Regions from separate parts of the Homo sapiens genome. Here region 2 is linked to region 1. The links come from fine-mapping of genetic effects on gene expression. Tissue or cell type: testis. Region 1 holds a variant in brackets; the other region holds the start of a gene. All regions are shown on one strand. Distances are from middle to middle.

Evidence for each region. PIP is the estimated chance that this variant, and not a neighbour inherited with it, causes the effect.
Region 2: KCNH5 starts here. The variant in region 1 is fine-mapped to the expression of KCNH5 in testis (GTEx, PIP above 0.99).

The regions. Positions count from the first base shown.
Region 1 is chr14:62,704,453-62,712,561 of GRCh38, reverse strand. It overlaps KCNH5 (potassium voltage-gated channel subfamily H member 5), which reads left to right. Exons shown (of 11, transcript NM_139318.5): 11 at 4,107-8,109. The coding sequence ends at 5,054. Among named protein-coding and RNA genes, the nearest start is that of KCNH5, 340 kb to the left of the region's middle. RefSeq lists an enhancer at 1,097-1,266. The variant G/A (reference allele first, on the strand shown) is at 4,320.
Region 2 is chr14:63,040,797-63,048,905 of GRCh38, reverse strand. It overlaps KCNH5 (potassium voltage-gated channel subfamily H member 5), which reads left to right and starts at 3,448. Exons shown (of 11, transcript NM_139318.5): 1 at 3,448-3,792. The coding sequence starts at 3,720. RefSeq lists enhancers at 3,180-3,683, 3,684-4,187.

The sequences.
Region 1 (8,109 bases):
TAAGACTGTTTGGAATCTGACCCCTTGGATTTGCATCCTGGACACACAGTTGTGTGACCTAAGGGAAACCACTTAAACTCTTTATGCCTCAATTTGCTTCTCTGTGATAAAAGAATAATATGACCTGTGTCCTACAGTAGAGAATAATAGGTCCTAGCTCGTAAAATGTTCTCATTCCATGACACTTAAATGAGAAAATACGTGTGTGGAAGTGACCACTTTGCTATATACAGATATTTTATTATCATTTTACAATGCCATTATTTTGTTCCATAGTCAAAAGTAAAATAAAACAAATGTCAATTTGTCTTATTCTAATCCTATAAAGTCAATTCAAACTAGTATTTTTTTTAAAAAAAACTACCTCTTAAAAACCTGGATATAATAAGTAGTTGACCAAATCCAAGTGTTACTGTTTGCGGTTAGGTGTCAGTTCCAATTGTATAGATTGGGTGATAAATCGCCTCATGACCCCCTCTTTCTAACCTTCCTCCTGCACCTGCTTCTCCTCTCACTGGGCTGCAGATTGTCAGCAGGCCCTGCTGCTAAGGAGAAAGGGGGATCTACTTCAGGACCTAGGGCTTGTGTCTGAGATCTGGAGGGCCTGTAGCCACTCCTCAGAGTGTTGGCTTTTGAGCTAGTCACGTCCAACTGCTGGCTCTCTTTATGTGTGGCATAATTGATGGCCTGAAAGTCCCTGGTGGCAGATCACCTACAGGGTGCAATAACCTTTCCCACCTCACACAGTGCTTTTGCCTTGCCTGGCTTCTAGCAGACTGAATTCACAAATGAGTACGTTCAGTGGCTTCCTGAGCTCTAGGGGATCCTAGCCAGTACCCCTCTGAGCTATAAAGGAAGTGAAGGGCAAGGAGCAAAGAGGGGAACTTTGGCTCTCTAAAGAGCATGTTTTTCCGCTGTGCATTGCTGGCTCCTGAGATTGGATGTGTAGGTCCTGCTGTTCTGCAAACTTGATGACAATTCAGGACCAGTCTTGTTGGTCATAAGTACCCTCAAACCTCAAGGGAGCTATGTTTAAAATTACTTAACTTCCTATCTCCCGGGCGTAAAAAGGGGGAAAGGAACAATGTGCAATACTCAGAATTCTGTCATCTAATGTACCAGAGCTCGATTCTTTCTCTTTCCCAGTTACTTTTACATTTCTCGACAGCAAAATACAGATCCAGCTCTGTCTCATTTGTCCCCTAGTATAGGTGAGAAATCAAGCCCTGTGCCAAGACCCCCTTTGCTCTATGTATTTTGGTATTTGGAGTCTTTGTTTCTAGCTAAATAGTAGCAATTCAAACACTTTTGTTTGTTCTTGGTTGGGGGTGGGTGGGGGGCAGCTGGTGGTCAAGGAAGCTGGGAAAGATTTATTTTATTGATATTTTACATGGACATGTTACAGTCTTACAACACAAAACACCCTGAACTTGGTAAGCACACAATAATTGCAAGCAATTATTAGCCATTATATTCAAAGATCTAAACAAATAAGGCTCTTGCCTAAGGTGCCCACAAATTCTCAGATGTCAGTAATACCAAATCTTTCATTATAGTCTCTGCATGGCAGGACATGTAGACATTACAAAATAGGAATGTCCTTGTCTATTATATACCAATAGGGTTGCCAAATTTAGCAAACAAAAATACAGGACTCCCAGGTAAAATTAAAATTTGAATAAACAAAGAATATTTGTTAAAGGATACATATGTCCAATTCAGATTTATAATGTCTGATGTTTTTAGTATGTCCCAAATATTGCACAGGGGACCTGCATTTTACCTGACCTTCCTGTGTGCCTACCACTTGTCACACTCCACTGACTTTGAAACGGTTCCATTTTCCCAAATGTGAAGGCTGCTCTCAGTTACCACATCGAGCCAACACTATGTCTATCCTAGGCTAAACAACCACCTTAAAAAAATAAAAAGGGTAAGTGGTGAGTGGGAAGGGGGATGTGGAAAATCATTCATATTAGGCCTCTCATGTCCACCCATAGAATCAAAGTGAGTACTTTTTCAAAAAGGGGCTGAAATAGGAAAATAGTATCTGCGTTCCTGTGTCTGGGTCTGTCTGGTTCTAAAGAATGTTCATATCTTGAAGACTTAGTACAACCTATGTTTACTTGGGAAGCATAAGAATTGTGTCAACCCTTTGAAAGACTTCTAATTAAACTGCTGGAGCTTTGATGTCAGAATTTGAGATTATTATTACATATTTTAAAAAGACCCAATTTCATGTGCCACTAACAAGAAAAAATATGTTGGCCTTTACAGACAGTTACTGAATTTATTTCAAAATACAAATTAGTACCACTCGATAAACTGAATTTAGTGCATCAATCTCATTTTAGAAAATGTACTCTTACCTGGAAGGGGAATTCCTATCTTTCTGGCTTTTCTGTTAACGGTGACCATCAGTAGTATTGGTTTTTGGTGTAAAATCAATGATTATATGTTACTCCAGGCAGCTGCTGAATATTCAAAAGATAGTAAATGGTTTCAGATAGGAGTATTTTATGAGAGTTCAAGGAGAGAGAACCAACGTATGCTGAGTGTCTGTTATGGGTTAGAGAACACGTGCTTCACATGTGTTTCTACTCTAACCAACAACCTACAGAGGGTGATCAAGGTAAGTTATTTTCCTTGAGTGATAAAATTGTCTGATTCTGAAAGTGCCTTATCTAATATAACTCTTTTTTGATTTTCCTTACAGCCTTCACCTGCAGTTACTTTGCTTTTCAGGACTCTGAGCAAAAATCTCACACTTATTAACTTTACTTCCAACTCTGATAATATATGTGGCAATTTCTTATATAGCCAACATTTTTTATTTCTTCTGATGGGGTTATCATAAGTTCTTCCCATTATTATCTTCAAAATACATTTTAAATAAAATGATGCTCATTTATTTGTGGATATCTAACCCCTCACCTGTACTATGTATTTAATTTTATGTTTAAAATGTAAAGAATCTGGGAAATTGAAGAGTTCAACCTCCAACCCAGTGAACATGTCATATGGAAAACATACTTCTATCTTAACCTTTTAGTGGTAGAACGATCATGAGTTTTCGAGGCAGTTTATTCAATAGAGAGCAGTTTGCAATGAAGTCTGTGTACTAAGCTGGTGTTACCTCCCGGAAACTTTTCCTCACAAATTCTAGTTCTGCCTTCTAGGGTCGCATAAATCAATTTAAATTCTCCCCTCACCCAACCCAGATGCCATTTGCTAAACTGTGTAAGTTTTCAGTACACTTATAGCCTGGAATTCTTACTATCTGATACCCAAACAGAGGATAATTTTTTTTTTTTTTTTTTTTTTTTTTTGAGAAGGAGTCTCGTTCTGTCGCCCAGGCGGGAGTGCTGTGGCGCGATCTCCGCTCACTGCAAGCTCCGCCTTCCGGGTTCACGCCATTCTCCTGCCTCAGCCTCCCGAGTAGCTGGGACTACAGGCGCCCGCCACTGCGCCCGGCTAATTTTTTGTATTTTTAGTAGAGACGGGGTTTCACCGTGGTCTCGATCTCCTGACCTCGTGGTCCGCCCGCCTCGGCCTCCCAAAGTGCTGGGATTACAGGCGTGAGCCGCCGCGCCCGGCCAACAGAGGATAATATTAAAAATGGTTTTGAAACTTATTTCTACACAATAAGGAAAATCATACAAAAGTGGCAATTCATTACAGAGAAATTTAAGGGATAAATATGTATTTCCTTATATATGTATACACATATATACATATACAAATATGTATGTGTGTATGTATGTGTGTATTTCCTACTAACGGCAATATAAGGGGAACATAAACTAGAAGCAAAGTACCTCTCTATTCAGTTGTCTCTTGAGTAATTCTCCCTCTGATATGTAGGGGACTAGAACTAAGTAAGTAAGTAGCCAACATTTCTATGTTGGGTTTAAGCCATATTGCATCCATAAATTTCATAAATGCAATTCCATAAATGGTATTTAAATTTTTTTTTCTTGAGAAATAATCTTATCAAATATTCAAGGGTTTTCTTTGTAACACAAAGCACATACAGCATAGTATTATACAACTGTTAATCCATCTGCTTTTATAATCAGGCTGTGACTATCTCTCCCGTTCCACAGATCATCTTTCGTAAGATCAGTGATGTGAAGAAAGAGGAGGAGGAGCGCCTCCGGCAGAAGAATGAGGTGACCCTCAGCATTCCCGTGGACCACCCAGTCAGAAAGCTCTTCCAGAAGTTCAAGCAGCAGAAGGAGCTGCGGAATCAGGGCTCAACACAGGGTGACCCTGAGAGGAACCAACTCCAGGTAGAGAGCCGCTCCTTACAGAATGGA[G/A]CCTCCATCACCGGAACCAGCGTGGTGACTGTGTCACAGATTACTCCCATTCAGACGTCTCTGGCCTATGTGAAAACCAGTGAATCCCTTAAGCAGAACAACCGTGATGCCATGGAACTCAAGCCCAACGGCGGTGCTGACCAAAAATGTCTCAAAGTCAACAGCCCAATAAGAATGAAGAATGGAAATGGAAAAGGGTGGCTGCGACTCAAGAATAATATGGGAGCCCATGAGGAGAAAAAGGAAGACTGGAATAATGTCACTAAAGCTGAGTCAATGGGGCTATTGTCTGAGGACCCCAAGAGCAGTGATTCAGAGAACAGTGTGACCAAAAACCCACTAAGAAAAACAGATTCTTGTGACAGTGGAATTACAAAAAGTGACCTTCGTTTGGATAAGGCTGGGGAGGCCCGAAGTCCGCTAGAGCACAGTCCCATCCAGGCTGATGCCAAGCACCCCTTTTATCCCATCCCCGAGCAGGCCTTACAGACCACACTGCAGGAAGTCAAACACGAACTCAAAGAGGACATCCAGCTGCTCAGCTGCAGAATGACTGCCCTAGAAAAGCAGGTGGCAGAAATTTTAAAAATACTGTCGGAAAAAAGCGTACCCCAGGCCTCATCTCCCAAATCCCAAATGCCACTCCAAGTACCCCCCCAGATACCATGTCAGGATATTTTTAGTGTCTCAAGGCCTGAATCACCTGAATCTGACAAAGATGAAATCCACTTTTAATATATATACATATATATTTGTTAATATATTAAAACAGTATATACATATGTGTGTATATACAGTATATACATATATATATTTTCACTTGCTTTCAAGATGATGACCACACATGGATTTTGATATGTAAATATTGCATGTCCAGCTGGATTCTGGCCTGCCAAAGAAGATGATGATTAAAAACATAGATATTGCTTGTATATTATGCAGTTGACTGCATGCACACTTTACATTTATTTATAATCTCTATTCTATAATAAAAGAGTATGATTTTTGTTACCCAAGGCAATGTAATATTTGAAGAATCAGGGTCCAACCTGCCAATGTTGCCATGACAAATTTGATCTCAGGCTGAGTATGTATATCGAGCTATCATTTTCTCACTGTTCTGTTAAGTTAAAAGTATAGATTAATGCCAAGGAAGAGTTCAGTCTTTTAAACTATTAGTACCATGTTATGATCTCTTTCCATAGGATATTTTTCTGTAACTTAGTGTTAGGTTCTTTTCCCCTACAGGCAGTGTTTGCTCCATTTAAATGACTGTTTAGTTGCCTAAGTCAGATAAGAGTGTGGGATATTGAAAACTTATTGCTATGGGTTTTGTGCATGAATTACATTTTTGATCAACTATACCTCTCGTTTTTTAACATTATACTTAGATAGTAATCATTAGCTCTTATGTAAGGAAATCCCTACTCCCTCCTTCTTGGAGAACAGCTGCCATCTTGTAAGCTGACATTATCAACATCATAAATACTAAACTATTAATATAGAGTATGTTATTATAGAAACACTGCACCACAGGGTATAAGGGCCTTTTGACAATTCATGTAAGAGATGCTGAATTTCCAAAGCTGATAAATGCTCTAAATTTGTATTTCCAAAACATGTTCAAGAGTGACATTGAAAGGCTTGTTAGCAAAGAAACATACAAAAAATAAAGCATTTAAGTAATCATATCAAAATGCTAACTATTATGGTATAAAATAAAAAAGAATGTAAACAGATAGATAAATTTTTGTGGCATGTATATAACTTAGAAAGAATGAAACACTGGTACGGATTGTTGACACATGAATCCTAGTGTTTGTAGTGATAACACATGAAATGTGGTAAAACAAACAAACCAACCAACCAAGAAGTAGACATTAAGTTGCTCGACTCAGATAACTGCTTTTCTATCATTTTATTGTGGTTATAGTTTTTTAAAGCTTTTTGCACACAGTTCTACTGCTGGACTTCTGCTGAGTTGATTCAATAAGCTATTGTGGCTCAGGCAGGTCCATTTGTGAAAGGGGGATACTAAAGACTGAATTTTAGTCTTTTGAATTCAAATCCTCTTTGTAGAAAGTGCCTATTATCAAGTTTTTAAAAAAAGTCACAAAGAGTTGTCCTGTATATAGCTAGTCCCTTAAATGATAAGGATTGAGAATAAAATACACATTCACTTGTAAGAACCCAGGAGAACTTATTTCTTTTGACTAAACTGTATTTTAGGAAGTCGTTCAGGGAAGCATACTTTTCAGTCAGTGCATGCACAGCATTTAATATGGGGAGCAGGGGAGTTAGTGTTTGCATGAAGTTGAAAAAAATGTGTGAGTAATTTATATATTACGGGACCATCTGTACATATATGTTAACAATATGCAAAAGATGATGGCAAAATCGAAGGAGATATCTTGATCTATTATACCCATTTGTATGAGCTTTTCTATCTCCCAGTATTCCCAACCAAAGCCACTAGAACTGAAAGACATGTTATCACATTCAGACTTGAGAAGTGCAAAACAGTGATTTATAAAAACAGTTGCTATTTTAGAATTTCTATTGAACTTCACATGCCCACAAGATGTGCCTCTTTAATCTAGGAGTCTCAAAACATATGAGCCATGGGCTCCATTTTCCTTTCTTTATGCGTATAACTTCCATTAACCATAATGGAAGTTTTCAGGGGAACACGTCTCCATGTAATGCTACAATATCTACCTACCACAAACACAAGAAAATGAAATAATTATGGAGTAAAGAATCAGCCTTGAAATTGGAATTTTGTTGCTTTCATGGTGAGGATGATATCTTTTTCGTGACCTCTGACATTTATTGAATTTCAGGGTATTTTTCTATTTGTTTAAGTCAAGTTTGGCTTAAGCTTTTAAAGGTGAATGTGTGGTTAAAATAAGAATCTGATTATAGAAGTTGTTAGTTTAACTTTAGCCAGTGCTTCAAAACTAACTATTGGTGTAAAGCTATAAAAGAATGACTGTGAACAACATGATGATTTGAAGTTCTAATTCATGGCTTTGCATATTAGTGGTGCAAATATTTACTGTGTTCTGACATTGACGTAGAGTTTCACCTAATCGACCTACAATGTTATTGTTCATATATGTGAGAAACATAATGGTTTTGAATTACTCCAGATTGTTAGGAAGGAGGGAAAGTATCAATTGTTTAATTATGGTGCAGTTATCATAGTGTCTTTTCAGCCATCTCTGTTCTCTGTGTGCATGATATGAAGAGGTGCTGAATGCACCCTGCTGTTTTCAGCAGGAATGCATGTTTTCAGCAAACATTGTATATAGAGTAGTCTTTTAGGTTCCCAGATTCCACAAATCTTAGCAGTTGAATTTACTCAGATTTGAATGAAGGGAGAATATTTGCTTTAATACATGCAATAATGATAAAATCATGTTCTATGTTGCCTCAACTAGCACATAGACAGTAGATGCTCTTTTGAGGACCAGATAACTGCATGTTTTATTCCTACACTGTATAGATGCTCTTGGTGCATCCAGAATAAAAATTTTAATATTATATTTCTAAATAATATATTAATAGGAGTAAATGGATATGTATTAGAAATCCAAACATTTTCCAAAGCAATTTACACACCTTCAATATTTTTCTATGATGTTATTAATAGGTAAGATCAGATGCTGTATCCTCGACAGGTGGTTGTAACAAAATAGCAAAAGTCAAATTAGAATGGAAATGTGAGTGATGTATCATAATGGCAGGTTTTATCAGTCTGTATCAGGATATTGTTGCACTAAATGTG
Region 2 (8,109 bases), 340 kb before region 1:
TCTGCTGTGATTTAGGAGTCAGTGAACACTTCTGGGGATTGGAATTCTTGGTTATCACAGACAAGGTCTAATTACCATACCTGGAGGGACAGAAGAAAAGAACAAATGATTCTGTTTTAAAATGGACTTTTGACAATATAACAAAACGAAGCTTTGTCTTTGTGTGACATTGAAGCTTTCTAATTCCTATCTCTCTCATCTGTTAAATCTTGAGGTTTGTTCCCCACATACGGAGTCTGTAACACACTTTTAAAATGCTGTATTAGCACCTTGTTGCAACTGGCCAGCATATTCCTTAGGGCCAGTCAATCTATATGATGCTGCTACTCTATTTTCCTTGACTCTATTTTGATTGGGAACAGTTGCAAGTTGTTGCCAAGGGTTTCTCTTCTTTCATGGGCTGCAAAATCATCGATGGCAATAGAGATCCTTGATGTTGCTGGTTGTTACCACACTAGCCTAAGATTAGGTTATTTTCTATTATTTACAAGGAGCTCTGGCTACAGGGTCAGGAGACCTGATTTTAGTCTCAGTGCAGACTGTTCTAAAGCACTGTGTCATCTGGGACAGGATATTTCATCTCTCTGGGTCTTGGTTTCTTCCTTTATAAAATGAAAATTTAAACTAGAAGATTAAGAAAAGTGTGTAACCTTTTGACACTACACAGCTACATTTTTTATGATCATTAAAATAATCCAAACGTTATAATGCTATGGAGTTATTAGAAACAAAGAAGAAAGGATAAATGTCATTTAATTGAATCTGCAGATGGGAATAAGAAAGTTCTACCAGTAATTTTGTGATTGTGTCTTAATGGAGTCCAAAAGAATTTCCTCTTTGGGAAATGTGAGTTAATACACCCACAGAGGAATGATTAGGAACAAGAATATATATACTAGATGGGAAATGCTGAGAACCTGAGATTTTAAATCAATACCCATAGGCGAGATGTGGGCAGCTGACGATGTGCAAAAGAACATATAGATTTGAAATATTCTCTGTTAATGATGATGGAATTATTATAGCATGCTAGAAGTCTAGAATAGCAATCAATGAATTATACATGTTTAAAAAATAAGTCTGTCTATTCACCAACCCAGCCAATGAATGACTGATTAGTTTAGGATCATTTGAACACAGGTCACAAAAGAATCGCTAGAGTGGGAAATTCAATTATGTGTTTAAGGCTGCTGTGGTGATGGTGGTTTCAGTTCTTCCCACCAACTGCAGGGAGGGAGTTGTAACCTGGCCGTATCTCTTGAGTGCTGCTGTGGCAAGCTCACTACGGATCCAATCTGCACCTGAGTCTCTTGTTATTTAACTAAACACACCTGATGTATTTAAAAGACATTTTAACTGTAAGGGGATAAGCTCCATGGCCAGCAGCACTTCCTGTGGAAAGCTAGAATAGCCTAGTGTTATTCCACCGAGTCTCTTGATTTTTTTTTTTTTTTTTTTGCATAAAGATTTTTAGCGGAATAAAATTGCCTCGTGTCAACCTTCTGGGTTTGCTCAGCTGCCTGGTCTCTGAAAATTTCAGAGAGGGAAAAAATGACCCCAAGGTAAAGGCTGGATCCTGGTTTTGCATTTAGCTGCTTCAAGCAGTAGGCTTACCCAGTTGGGGAGAGGAGAGAAAGGGAGAGAGAGGTGGGGGGAGAGAGAGAGGTGGGAAGAGAGAGAAAGGGGAGAGAGAAGGGGAGAGAGAGAGGGAGGGGAGGGGAGGGGAGGGGAGGGGAGGGGAGGCAAGGAGGGAGAGAGAGAGAGACAGAGACAGACAGAGAGAGAGAGATCCTGTCTTGAGGTCAGTGATTAGTAATCTAGGGGGTTCCAAAAGGGGACAGGTGCTGAGATGTGTACTTCCACCCCTGCCTGGGGATTCTCCCTGCTTCTGGTAATCTGACCTTGATAATTTCTAACGCAATTACCTCTCCTCTAGCACATTCTGACCCCAGCAAAAGGGGACGCACCCATCCAACTATCTTTTCGCCTTCAACACTGAAGACTTCGCTCTACCACCAACCGCTGACGCCGCGGCAGTGCACTTTTGGTCCCCCACTCTTTGACCCTGTTTGCACAATCGTCCTTTCTCGACAGGCCCAGGTGCAGCCCCCAGAGAAAAGAGGAAGCCTTACATGTATCATATTTACCTGGAGGGCTTGTTTAAACAGATGAGTCAACCCAATCCTCAGAGTTCCTGGTTCCCTAACTCTGGGGTAGAATCCACTAATTTGCATTATAAACAAGTTCTTAGGTGGTGCAGATGCGGATGCTGCCCGTCCAGGCCACTTTGAGAACCACTGCCTTAGATCAAGGAAGGTGCCTCAGTGCGGGCTCCTCTTTCCTTTCCATCTCTCTCCACCCCTTTCGCATTTATGCCATTTTCCTTTCTCTGTGACACATTCAGGCTTTTGGACTGTTTGTAACGGTGCCGCTGCTGTCCGTTCTCAACGCCTGGAAATTGGGGGGTTTGTTAGAGGTGATTCGTGCCCTGCTCCACCCTGGCGCATCTTCGCCCCCACAGCCTTTACCGTTTTTCCATCGCTAACACTGCCCTCCTCACTCCCCCTCTCTCGGGTGTGAATTATTCACCCTCTTCCCCTACTCTTCACATCAAGTGCAACCTTTCCCGCAACTTTGCAGCGGTGGCGGGCTCGCGGATCGCCTCCTGCGCTCAGCGGTCCTGGGGGAAACTCCCCTGGGCGGCCGCACGCTCCCCCAGACGCCAAGCCCGGCCCGGGTCGCAGGGGCCATTCCGGGCGCCGGCTGTGCGCTCGGACTTCAGGGCTCGCGCTCCCGCTCCGGGGTGGGGTAAGGGCGGTGCGGAAAGCGCCAGTGTTCAGGAAGGTTTCAGGCGCCGGAGCCCGGAGGGGGGCGGTAGCAGCGTCAGGTGGCTGCTCTGCGTCCCCGCGCGCCGCCCAGCCAGTCCCTGCCCTGCTCTCAGCCTCGGCTGGGGCTGGAGCTGGAGCCTGCCCGCACCTCCGCCCCGGGAGCCGCGTCCGCGCCAGCAGCCCGGATTCGGGACCCGAGCGGGAGACGCCGAGATGTGAGCCTCCGACTGGCCACTGCTCTCTCTGGCACCCTCTTCTCCCATTCCACCGGCCCGATTGGACAGCGATCGCTTGCCTCGATCTCCGGGGAGAGGAGCAACCACCAGGCGCACAGCCCAGAAGTTGGGCTACGCTGTTCAGCCCGGAGCTCGCTGCGCGAGGGGGTGGACGAGGAGACCGGGAGACGAAGGCGCGGGGAAGGGGTCTCGGTCTGAGCTGAGGGGGATTGGGAGGGTGGGGGCTTGAGTTCCCGCTTGCGCTCCCCAGCAGGGGGAGAGATGCAGAGCCCGCGCCCAGGCGCCGGCCGCCGCGGTAGCAGCCTCAGCAGCAGCCTCAGCATCAGCACCGGCGGGACAGCGACAGCGGGGGCGGCGCAGGCGCACTGTGCCCCGCGGAGCCTGCAGTTCCCGAGCCCCGTGTGCGGCACCGCCACAGTCTGGGCAGCGGCGGCCGGGGGAGCGCTACTACCATGAACTGCCTGGTCCTCCTCCCCAGAGCTGCTCATCCGGGTCGGGCTGGAGACACAGTCAGGGGACCCCGTCGCCGCCGCCGCGCCCCCTCTTCTTTCGGCTCAATCTTCTCTTCCACCTTTTCCTCCTCTTCCTCCACCTTCTTTGCCTGCATCCCCCCCTCCCCCGCCGCGGATCCTGGCCGCTGCTCTCCAGACCCAGGATGCCGGGGGGCAAGAGAGGGCTGGTGGCACCGCAGAACACATTTTTGGAGAACATCGTCAGGCGCTCCAGTGGTAAGGAGAGTTGTAGTTCAGAACACCCCCACCTCCATCCCGCCCACACGCGCCCCCCATCCTCCCCATCCCATCCCTCTCCCAAGGGGGGAGGAGGATGCAGGCAGCCTTACCTGGTGGTTTCATTTACCAGTTGGGCTGGATTTGGGGTGGGGTGGGGTGGCAATGAGATGGTGGGGGAAAGTTAGTTGCATCCCCTTCCTACCAGACAGACTCACCCCCTCCCACCTGTCCAGAGCCCAGAACTGGAGGAAAGAAAGGGGTTGGATAGGGTGTAGGTACATCTGGAACATAGAGTTGAGTTTTGCTTTTATCTTTCTTGTTCTTCCTTCTCCCACATTTTTCCCCAAAGTGAGCAGCAGGGACTGACCAAATTCTGAGTTAATCTCAGTGGAAAGGTTTCCCTCAAGTTGGGAATGGCTGCGAAAGTGGCTACTTAACAAGATTTAAATCTCTGGAAAGGCTTTTGGCCCTCGTGGTCACGGGGAAAGGTGCTTTGTGCCGGGGAGAGTAGTTGAGGTTGAACCTAAGAAAGAGTTCAGTGCTTGCAAAATGGGAAGCCAATTACTGTGGACAAATTGGTGCTTCAAGTTTCTTCTTGCTATGTTTTTCACTGTACATTCATCTATATATTTCGTTTGACTTAAACATGAGAAACGTAGAAGTGAAGCAGTAACTATTGTGCTTTTAATGCAACTAGAAAAAAATCAAAAAGATGCCATCCTACCTTGCTACTGGCGTTAAAGTTTTCTTGCCTTAGTGTGTCTTTAAAATACCATCCATTTATACATTCATTTCCTACAAGATATTTTGGATGGGAATGGTTATATATTTCCACATTTTAAGACCTTATAAACTTTGCATCTTACTGAAATCTGCGTTTTCTACTTGTTTTTAATTCTTTTGTATAATTTTAAACTTCATAAGTAAGATATGTTGAATATCTTTTTAAGTTTTTCCTTCAGAGGCTGTTATTTTGACATCTCTTGCTTGGAGAATAATGAGAAAGACATTTCTGTATATGGAGTACAGTAGAGCTTGGAACAAAGCAATGGAAATACTCTATGCAGTTCCATAGTGCCTTGTTTATTCATTCATTGAAACAATATTTATTTGGGTGCCTTATACCACAGATACTCTGTGGTTTCTTGGGATTAAAAAAAAGTAATTAATACACATCCCCTCTTCTTAAGAGGCTCCTTGCCTAGTTGGAGGCACAGGGAAAGACAGAGGTACACTGAAATATCAAATAATTAAATAAATAATGCTTTCCCTAAATGGTAGATTAGATTATACTAATTCTTAGATTAGAATCTCTTTTAAGACTAGGCTTGTAAATATTTCCTCTGATTTTGAGACTAACTGTATTTAAGTGTTTCAAAGTATTTTCCCCAAATATCTGACTTGTTATTTGTTTTTAATTTGAGGTTTTAAACTTTATTTCTTCGTTTTGGCCAATGCCTGAAACAATAAAAGTCTAAAGCAGTAGTGTTGTATTTGGGTCGGAAAAAATAGCGAATAGGGTCTGGCCTAATATTCTTTTAAATACCTGTATATTTTTTAGTTATATAAATTCATAATGGTAGGCAATTTTTATTCTTATAGATTACCTTCTTGTATTAAGATTATACTAAACCTATAATACAAGGGGATATTACTCTTAAAACAGTTTGGGGAAAATGTGTGGATTATTGGAATTAGTTAAGTATACAAGTCTTCTTTCAGCTTTCTCATCCTCTTGGGTTATTTCAACTTCACGCAATTTGGTCTATGAGAGAACTTTTCAGAGAAGGCCTTAAAACATAAAATCTGCAGGGTTACGATTGCTCTGCTTTATAAAGAGAAAGAACATGAGAATCCCTTGACTAAACTTTATTAATATAGCAACTGTGGTTGAAGCTTCTTATGCAGACTATGAAACTATGAGATAGTTTTTTGAATTTTTAAAAATTGTAGATATACTATGAAATAAAGATTTACCTTAGGTGGCTTAGAAATGTCTGTTTCTGTTGCCTCCATTTTGTATCTACCACTCAAATTAATGAGTATTTTATCTTTTTTACACTTCATGTTCATAATCGTTTCATTGGTTAAATGTTTCTTTCCTGGACAATACCAAGTGAAAATGAAAATTTATCTGTTTTGGCACTTAAATGCCACCTCTAATCGCCTATGGCTAACTTTGAATACCACTACTCAAAGACCCTGAACTGTTTGAAGTGTGTTAGATAGTTGTAGTGAGTATATATGCAGGTGTGTGTGATAAATACTGAAAAGTCTCAGTACCTCTTTTATAGGCAGAACCTCAGAAATTGAGAATTATGGTATTAAATTGGTCTACACATTCACGGGGGAATATCCCGCAGTTGTCATTTCTATATGATTTGGCAGAGAAATAGAAAAATTTATCCTGAGAAATTGTTTAATTGAGACTAATAGAAAATTCCCTTCAGGATTCTCACAGATGGATCAGGTTTGTCACTTTGAAGGTTTCATTATTCACTAACTTAACAACATTGAAAGTGAAGTGTTGGCAGAGGTTTAGCAGGAAGAGAAAGAATAGCACCCAGCACTCCCAATCTATTTAACAATTGAAGAAACAGAGGCTGGCCTTGTCTTTTTACCTGAACCCCAAGAAAAGCTCTTTCTGATACAATACCATTTTCTTCTTATGAAAAGGTCAGATCTTACAGTGAGAGTCAGCCAAACATAGACATAGATATAGAGAGATACCCAGATAATACACAGTCACATAGGTAAACACTCAGCTGGTCAGGCATCCACCCAGAAAACTGAAAAGAGGAATATCCTACTTCTTCTTTTTTAGGATTTGTCTGTAAAGTGTGTCCACCACCCTACAGACAGAGAGGAAGCAATCTAACTCTTTTTCTCTGTCTTGCACACAAGGAGCAAAACAGAGATGTAGGAAACAAAACAAAACAAAACACACAGAGCAGAGAGAAAGGGGTGGGGTGGGAGAGAGAGAGAGAGAGATTATGGGACATGCAAGGGAAATGGACACAAAGAGAAAATGTCAGACATTTATTTGTCCATGGGTATCACCAATGAACTGAAATCTCAGCCAGTTACAAATTTACCAGAACATTTTTTTGATGATGTGAAACAAAAAAGCAAGAAGTGTGGCATATTTGAATATCAATTTTATACCTGAGGATTTCTTAATAAAGTTCCAAACTCCTCAGATGCAGTTTCCCAGAATACCAGCACTGTATTCTGTACTCCAGAGTGGCAACTATAACCTATGCTATTATTTCACACCTCTTGAGACTGGATTTTTATTTTCCTTATTTAGTTGACTCAGTCTGTTATAAGCGAGCATTGCAAGTTGTTACTGGTGATTCAAAGTCTATAAAATAAAATAATGAGGGCCATTGAGTAGGATGGATACACACACCCTTTATAGCCAAATCTCAAAAGAAGCAAGGAATTCTTTTTAGTTTAAAGATAAAAGATAAGATCATTTCTAGACAAAAGGAATTATAATAATTCTTAGCATGTGATTCTAGTAAATATAGAGAACATTATTACTCTAAGAAGTTGTAAAGTTTAAAGTATAAATGCTATAGGACGGCTTAGACAAACTTTTGGCTAGTACGATCAAAATAAGCCATTAGTAAGGGAAGGTTTAGAGGACTATGTGGTGAGTTCATTACAGCTGAGCAATGTCTCCCAGAAGGCCCCTGCCTCAAGGGCTTACAGACTAGATTTGTGTCTAGAACATTATTAGGATACCTTCCTTTATTTAAATTTCAATTATTTATGCAAACTATTAATCTAAATTGGGCTCTAGGGAGCAATAAACTTGTGGGTAGAGGTTAAGTATCTGGAAGAAAGTAACTGTTTTTAGGACTTTTAGGTTAAAATTTAGATTCAAAAGACAAAAAATATTTCAAAGACCTTCAACCTGATTTTGTCTTTGGGCAGCACATTTTACTCATATGTTGTCTTCAATTCCTTAGCAAATAGGCAGACATGATTAGTTTGAGTGACAGTAAGCTAGGTTGCTATTTTGAAAATTTTAACTACAAATTAATACCTTTTAACTAGAAATTATTATTATTTAATATTTTAAGCTTTATGACAAATTGGAAGTTTATTTTAGTTTTGTGGAAAACTAGAAGTGTTTTTCTTTTTGGGGAAAAAAGGGGTTCAGGAAAGAAGAAAACAGAGAAGGTAGTATTTTATGAACCACTTACCTTTCAAGAGAAGAAACTCAGTATCCTCAATTTTTCATTCTGCTTGAGATAGCTGGTTGCACAAGCACTTTTTTTACTCAGCTATCTCTTACTTGTAGAA